Homo sapiens: one gene and its partner. The protein of the gene in region 1 purifies or fractionates together with the protein of each later gene. This does not show direct contact. Each region holds a gene or a part of one and is shown in the gene's direction. Other genes may lie near its edges.

Region 1 (5,397 bases):
TTTTTTTTTTTTTGAGACGGAATTTTGCTCTTGTTCCGCAGGCTAGAGTGCAGTGGCGCGATCTCAGCTTACTGAAACCTCCGCCTCCCGGTTCAAGCAGTTCTCCTGCCTCAGCCTCCCAAATAGCTGGGATCACAGGCATGTGCCACCACGCCCAGCTAATTTTGTATTTTTAGTAGAGATGGGGTTTCACCATGTTGGTCAGCCTGGTCTCGAACTTCTGAGGTCAAATGATCCACCTGCCTCAGCCTCCCAAAGTGCTGGGATTACAGGTGTGAGCCACCATGCCCAGTCTTCATTTTTTAATTTTCTTAGTCGTATTGTGTTCTGGCCTGGAACCTTCTCAAACTACACAGAACTGTAGACATATTGGTTGGAACTCTTGAAATTTTTATTGGCTGGGCACAGTGGTTCACGCCTGTAATCCCAGCACTTTGGGAGACTAAGGTGGGCTGATCCCTTGAGCCTAGGAGTTCAAGACCAGCCTGGGCAACATGGAAAAACCGTGTCTCTACTTTAAAGAAAAAAGAAATTAGTCTGGCATAGTGTCACACGGCCTGTAGGCCTAGCTCCCTGGGAGGCTGAGCCTGGAAGATTGAGGCTGCAGTGAGCTATGATTGTGCCACTGCAGTGTAGCCTGGGTGACAGAGTAAGACCCTGTCTCAAAAACAGAAAAACTAAAATTTCTATTTCAAGGAATATAGTTTTGAAGAATAAGAGAAAGAGGAGTCATGCTAGGTACTGGCACCTGGCCGTTTTCAAGTCAGTCAGTGATTTGTTTTTTGTGACCTTAGCTACATCATCTCCCCTCTCGTGAGCTCAGTTTCTTTTTGCCAGCAAAGGAAAGTAATACCAGTTTTTCTTTAGGGGGCATGAATAACATTGTGTGAGTAAATGTGATACGTATAAGTTCTTTCACAGTCATGAAGTAGGATAGCCTCTGTTGGATGGGGATACAGTGACAAGGGGCTCTGACCAAGGGACTAATGTGCTAGACACTAAGTCTTGACTGCCAGTCCCCAGCCATGTGATCAGGTGCCAGAGGAGACCAGGAACTCTTCAGTTCCCCTTCTCCATTGCTTAGCTTTTTCTGAGTAATTCCTGAGTGTGACATGTTCTCTCATTTTTTCTTCAGGTAGAATGGAAGAATCTCACTTCAATTCTAACCCGTACTTCTGGCCTTCTATCCCCACAGTCTCAGGTCAGGTAAGTGGTGTTGCTTTCTTGCTCTCTCCAAGTCTCAGTAGTAAGTTCTGTTACTATGGAGACTGAAGGTACACCACATGCTGTTTTACTGGGTCCCCCACCCCTGAGAATTATCTAGTGTTTCTGCCTGGGCTTCTCTCTAGAAGGCCAGAGGTATGAAGTGCTCATCCTTGATCCCTAAGGAGGACAGACACTGAAGTGTGCTCACGAGCAAGCAGAATCAGCCTCTCAGGCTGAAGAGGGTGCTCCCGTCCCCTTCCTTTTCTCTTAGATCGAGAACACAATGTTCATCAACAAGATGAAGGATCAGCTGTTGCCAGAGAAGGGCTGTGGTCTGGCCCCACCTCACTACCCCACCTTGCTGACAGTGCCTGCCTCAGTGTCCCTGCCCTCAGGCATCAGTATGGACACAGAGTCCAAGTCAGACCAGCTGACCCCACACAGCCAAGCGTCCGTTACCCAGAATATCACGGTGGTCCCTGTGCCGTCTACAGGACTGATGACTGCTGGTGAGCAACTCTGCTCTTCTCCAATCTGAGGTGTTGATCTTCCATGATCAGTACCCCAGGCTGGAGGGCTCCAAGGACATGGGGAGTGGGATATGTGTTTGATTATTCAATCAAATTTTTATTAAGTGCCTACTGTGTGCCTAGCAATGTGCTAGGCATTGTGGGGGATACAAAGAAGTAGAAGATGCGGTCCCTGCCTTTGAGGAGGTGACATTCTTTCCTTCTCTGAATCAAGGAGTCTCCTGTTCTCAGAGGTGGAGAAGAGAAGGGAGTCAATCAAGGGGTAAATCTCACTGTTACCAGGGGGGTGGGGACAAGGGTTAGGAGACCATTATTTTTCTACAGGGTTTGGGATTTCCTGTGTACTCTGGGTTGGGTCGGCGGGGGGGTGAGGGGTTAATTAGACAATGATCTGGGGGAAATGAAATAGGATTAGGATCAGGACTGAACAACATGACGCCATCTCCTTTTTCTCCCAATCCTAGGTCCGGGTTTGGTAATCACGTCCCCCTCAGGCTCTCTTGTGACCACAGCATCATCAGCTCAGACCTTCCCCATTTCGGCTCCCATGATTGTCTCAGCTCTTCCCCCTGGCTCACAAGCCCTGCAGGTTGTCCCTGACCTCTCCAAGAAGGTAGCATCGACCCTAACCGAGGAAGGAGGCGGAGGTGGTGGTGGAGGTGGCAGTGTGGCTCCTAAGCCACCCCGGGGCCGGAAGAAGAAGCGGATGCTGGAATCAGGGCTGCCCGAGATGAATGACCCTTATGTCCTCTCCCCTGAGGATGATGATGACCATCAGAAAGACGGCAAGACCTACAGGTAAGACTCAGAGCCAGGGGCAGGATGGGGCGAGGATCCCTGGCTTGGTGATTCTCCCTGTACCCTCATTGTGTTCTGCCCCGGTCAGGCGCTACACTCTGACAGCTTCCCAGCTCTGAGCCACTTGCATGTCAGGTGTCCCATCATAGGATAGGAGGCAGAGCTGCTAGCATCGTGTTAGGATGCAAAGACCCATTTCACCCTTTCCTTTTTTTAACCCTTGTTTTGGGGGTCGTTAACACTGACTAATTTTTTAGTAACAGAGTAGAATTTCTCTCTTGTAATAAGGCTTTATGCTGGGTTTGAGACTCTTGGCTGCAGCTCCTTTTTGCTTTCTACATATTCCATTCCTATTTTTCTAAGAAACCTTTCTAGTAAGCACCTAACCTATGTGCCATCCACCAGTTCCTGGGTCGCATTTGAACACTGAGCCTGCCTTACCCTGCATGGTTGGGATGATGGGAGGGGCCTTCATAAGAAGGTAGGAGGAATAGGATGCCTCCCCCTTTGGAATATGTACTTAAAGAATGACTTTGCTCACTTTCTAATTTATGAAAGTCATTTTGATTCTCCACTTCCTCTAAGTTCCCCTTTACCAAAAAGCATTATATGCGTATTTGCATGTGATACTCTACAAAAATAATTACATAAGTAAACTCCCTGCCCTTTGAAAGTTGAACATCTTTTAATCCCTTTGAGAACTGTCACGTGCCCTAGTGGGTTTGGGGAGTTTGGTAGCACTGTATAGAGTGGGATAACTACTGTCACAGCTTTGATATAGACAGGGGCAGATGTGCATGGCTGGGAGTCTGGGTCTGTCCTTAGTTCCTTAGTGTACCCAGATGGGCAATGTTGTTCCCATTTTAGGAGCGAAGGGAACTGCGGCACAGGAAATGGACAGAGCCTTGGGCTCATGGATTCAGTTCCCGGCTCCACCACGAATTTGCTGTGTGACCCTGGGCAAGTCCTTTTCCCCTCTCTGGGCCTCAGTTTCCTCATCTGTAAAATGGGGATAATTCTGTTTATGCCTCCCGTTTGTTGGGAGTATATATCAGATAAGATTTGAAATGTTGGGAACTTCAAAAGAAAGTTAAGAAATTAGTTATTTAGCATTTATTTTTATTTGTGTTGTATAGTTCTACTATGGAGAGTAGCCTACAGAGTGTTTAAACCGCTCTTTATAAATGAAAATGAGAGGAGTGTTGCTATGCAGAATTGAGCACTGCAGAATTCCAGCTCATAATCCAAAAGTTCATTGCAGCTTTATTATTACAGGTGTACCCCACTTTATACAATAAAAGTGTTCCTGGAAAATGTTTCCATCATATCATATTATAAAGGTACCTGACAAGTTTGATTCATTTAAAGGCATTCTCTTATATATCAGTTCATAAAATTAAAATCCCTTTTAAGTTATCGTATAGAAATCTAGATTTTTATGTGTTTGTTTAAAATGAGGCCATTGTGAGATGGAGATACATCTATATACAATTTGTGGAAGTAGTAGAAGGATCCTTTAACACTCTATAGAGCCCTTCTAATGGATCAGGGTCCTCTCATTCTGCCCTTTCTTCACTGTGACCCACATTAAAGCTATCTCTGGACTTTCCAAACTGTATATATTAAAAGAAATGCACATATACAGTTGGAAGAAAGCCTCATGGGGCTTTTCACACATTCAGTATTTTTGGAATTCCTGAATGACCATCCACCCAGGAGACTACAAAGAACTTTGAAATTGAAGGGAGACTTATTGTATCCTAGGTAAACAGAATTTCTTCAGAAACTCAGAACTCTTGACATTCCAAAGAAATTTTTTTTTTTTTGAGACGGAGTCTCGCTCTGTCGCCCAGGCTGGTGTGCAGTGGCACAATCTCAACTCACTCTTAACTTCTGCCACCCAGGTTCAAGCGATTCTCGTGCCTCAGCCTCCCGAGTAGCTGGGACTATAGGTGCGCCACCACGCCCAGCTAATTCTTTTGTATTTTTAGTAGAGACAGGGTTTCACCACGTTGGCCAGGCTGGTCTCGAACTCCTGACCTCAGGTGATCTGCCTGCCTCGGCCTCCCAGAGTGCTGGGATTACAGGTGTGAGCCACTGTGCCTGGCAAAAGAAATCTTTTTATCACAGTGAATTTCTGTTTTGATGCATGTGTGGGTCAGCCATACCCTCTTCAGTGGTCAGTAGCATTTGACTGGCTATTGGGGCAGTTGGGTTCTGTTACTCTGGTCAAGTCAACGTATCTCCCACTCTTTGTTCCCATATATAAAATGGGAAGATCAGCCATGCCTTCATCTGTCTTGTAGAAATGTTTTGAGGCAAAGTCAGAATATTTGAAATTGTTTTGAGCATTTTAGGAAAAATGGATAATAATTCAAAGTGGCCATACTTGTAATTATTATAATCAAGGCCATTGCATTGCATGCTTCCAAGGGGTCCCGTTCTCATTGTGTTGGATGTGAATGGTGCCCCTGGAGGAAGGCACCCCATGATATGGATGCTGGCTTTTCTATCCCCTGCTGACTGCCACGACTCTCCAAAACTAAATTTCTTTCCAACCACCCAGCACCTTGCATTAGAGGACTCTCTTACTTGACTTCATAGGATTTTCAAGTTGGAAATATTTTAATGATCTCCTTGGTCAGTCCCTTCCTGGCAGATGATTCCAACCTCTGCTTGAATACCTCTGGTGTTAAGAATCTTAAAGTAGGCTGGCATCATGGCTTTGTAGTGAATAACTGCCCTTTGGCAAATTACTTACTTTCTGAGTCTTTGTGTTCCTTTCTGTAAAAACATGGATAAGACTTGCCAGGTTGTGAGGAGTAGAAACAATGTGTCTGAAGTGCCTAACCTAGTGCCTGGC
Region 2 (2,777 bases), on another chromosome or scaffold:
AAAATTGGATGGGCATGGTGGCCCATGCCTATAATCCAGCACTTTGGGAGGCCAAGGCAGGCGGATCACCTGAGGTCAGGAGTTTGACACCAGCCTGGCCAACAGGGCAAAATCCCGTGTCTACTAAAAATACAAAAATTAGCCGGGTATGGTGGCGGGCACCTGTAATCCCAGCTACTGAGGAGGCTGAGGCAGGAGAATCACTGGGACCCAGGAGGTGGAGGTTGCAGTGAGAAGATATCACTCCACTGCACTCCAGCCTGGGTGACAGCACAAGACTCTGTCTCAAAAAAAGAAAAAAAGACAAGATCATACAAATTCTAGGCCTTACAGGTTACACGACCTCTGTCACACCTACCCCACTCTGCTGTCGGATAGCAAAATCAATCTGCAAATGAAGGGGTGTGGTGGCTGTGTTCAGACAAGATCTTACAAAATTAGGTGGCTAGTCCAGCAGCTGTGCTAACCCCTGAAGGAGAAGAAGAGACACCCACAGTAGGAAATCCCAGTCAGAACTGACTGCAGTGGTCTCCCCCAACAGAGACGGTGGGGGTCTGAGCCAGAGGCAGCAGGGAAAGCACAGCACAAGAACGCACAGGCCCAACAGAGAAATGCCACAAGATTTAGTAACCAACTATTGATAAAGCTGAAAGAGGACAGCAAGGTTTCTTTTGTGTCAGTGGAAGGTGGGGACAGATTTTGTGTCTGAGGCAAACCCAGGCCAAAATTACTAGGCTTCCCGGAAAAGAAATAAAGACGTTGCTGCTTTTTGTTTTGTTTTGTTTTGTTTTGTTTTTGAGACGGAGTCTTGCTGTGTCGCCCAGGCTGGAGTGCAGTGGCGTGATCTTGGCTCACTGCAAGCTCCGCCTCCTGGGTTCATGCCATTCTCCCGCCTCAGCCTCCCGAGTAGCTGGGACTACAGGCGCCCGCCACCACACCCGGCTAATTTTGTTTTTGTATTTTTAGTAGAGACCGGGTTTCACCATGTTAGCTAGGATGGTCTCGATCTCCTGACCTCGTGATCTGTCCACCTCGGCCTGCCAAAGTGCTGGGATTACAGGTGTGGGTCACCGTGCCCGGCCTTTTAATTTTTTTGAGACAGGGTCTTGCTCTGTCACCCAAGGAGTGGTAGGATCTCAGCTCATTGGAACCTCTGCCCTCCAGGCTCAAGCAATCCTCCCACCTCAGCCTCCTGAGTAGCTGGGACCACAGGTGCATGACACCATGCCCAGCTAATTTTTTTGTATTTTTGGTAGAGACAGGGTCTTGCCATACTGCCCAGGCTGGTCTCAAACTCAGTTCAAGAAATCCACCTTGGCCTCCCAAAGAGCTGGGATAATGGGTGTGAGCCACTGCACCTGTTGCTGTTTTCATCACAAACAACTCATTCTTTTTTTAAATCAAACCCTACATGAGACAGTGGAACGAATGATGTTGTGAAGCAGTTTATAGTAATGCCCAAGTTAAAATAAAATATATACACCACCTACAAGATTCCCCAAAATGCCCATAAAATTACTAAGTTCAACCTACCTTTTCCACATGAATTCTACCACCCAAGAAAGGGGCACAAAAATCCTTTAGAAAATACCTTATTCTTAAAAAAAAAAAAAAATGCTGGGCATGCTGCCTCATGACTGTAATCCTAGCACTTTGGGAGGCTGGGGTGGGTGGATCGATTGGGCCCAGGAGTTTGAGGCCAGCCTGGGCAACATATGTTGTCTGGAACTGTCACCCTGCCTGGCACAGAGAAGGGCTTAGTGACATTTGTGGGGTGAACTGAGAATTCTCCTGTTCACCTACAGGGTGTCTTCTTTTTGAGGAAAAGCAGCCACCATTTCCAGGTTTGATATAAGCTTCATGGACTGTTTCTTCCTCTTCTCCGGCAGGTGGGCATTAACTACCAGCCCCCCACGGTGGTCCCTGGGGGAGACCTGGCCAAGGTGCAGCGGGCTGTGTGCATGCTGAGCAACACCACGGCCATCGCGGAGGCCTGGGCTCGCCTGGACCATAAGTTCGATCTCATGTATGCCAAGCGGGCCTTTGTGCACTGGTACGTGGGAGAAGGCATGGAGGAGGGGGAGTTCTCTGAGGCCCGCGAGGACCTGGCAGCTCTGGAGAAGGATTATGAAGAGGTGGGCGTGGATTCCGTGGAAGCCGAGGCTGAAGAAGGTGAAGAATACTGAGGGGAGGGTGTGGTGGGTTCTCCACTCCACTGCCACCCCCAGCGTGGCTGCTTTCAAGTTCTTTGCAATTAAAGGTTCTGTATAAAACCAAGACCTCTGTGTATCGTACTGCCTAGCTTTGCCTGCAGGAGCAGGTGGGACCCCCAGAGCCTGCATGGACAGTGGTGGGGTGCCAGCCTGCCCTGCTAGCATGGAGTTGGGTGCAGCGGGATGGTACATACTTAAGGAGCTGCCACAGAAGTAACTTGACACGGAGAAATAGATTTCCTAAATTCTAGGAAAGCACAGTCAGGGTTTTCAACTGAATTTGCAACTTTGGGGGCTTTTCTATTGATGGGTGATGCGAGCTACAAAGAAGAGTCTAGACATGGAGTGTTTAAATCTGAGGTCTGTGGATGGGGCTTGTCCATGAAATCCCTAAAGCTGTGGGTCAAATGTGTAAGGTCAGGACATTTTAGAAGGGAAAGAGTGTTACTGTGTTCTGCACAGCATTCGTGACCCATAGAAGGTTACAACACACCCAGCCTTCCACAGTAACCTGGAAGACAGCATTTGCCCTCCGTGCACACACACGGCCACTCTGCCCCTCAG

The links. The genes of interacting proteins can lie anywhere in the genome.
Region 2: the proteins of ZNF384 (region 1) and TUBA3C purify together in Homo sapiens (affinity purification with mass spectrometry, with the first as the bait; 3 studies listed by BioGRID). This does not show direct contact.

What each region holds. Positions count from the first base shown.
Region 1 is NC_000012.12:6,675,264-6,680,660, reverse strand, and holds part of ZNF384 (zinc finger protein 384), read left to right. Parts: intron 1-41; exon of another isoform or gene 42-138; intron 139-1,135; 5' UTR 1,136-1,140; coding exon 1,141-1,206; intron 1,207-1,477; coding exon 1,478-1,715; intron 1,716-1,950; coding exon 1,951-1,998; intron 1,999-2,200; coding exon 2,201-2,534; intron 2,535-3,401; coding exon 3,402-3,494; intron 3,495-3,809; exon of another isoform or gene 3,810-3,874; intron 3,875-5,397. UniProt on the Homo sapiens protein: Transcription factor that binds the consensus DNA sequence [GC]AAAAA. Seems to bind and regulate the promoters of MMP1, MMP3, MMP7 and COL1A1.
Region 2 is NC_000013.11:19,173,272-19,176,048, reverse strand, and holds the end of TUBA3C (tubulin alpha-3C chain), read left to right. Parts: intron 1-1,889; coding exon 1,890-2,186; 3' UTR 2,187-2,277; downstream 2,278-2,777. UniProt on the Homo sapiens protein: Tubulin is the major constituent of microtubules, a cylinder consisting of laterally associated linear protofilaments composed of alpha- and beta-tubulin heterodimers.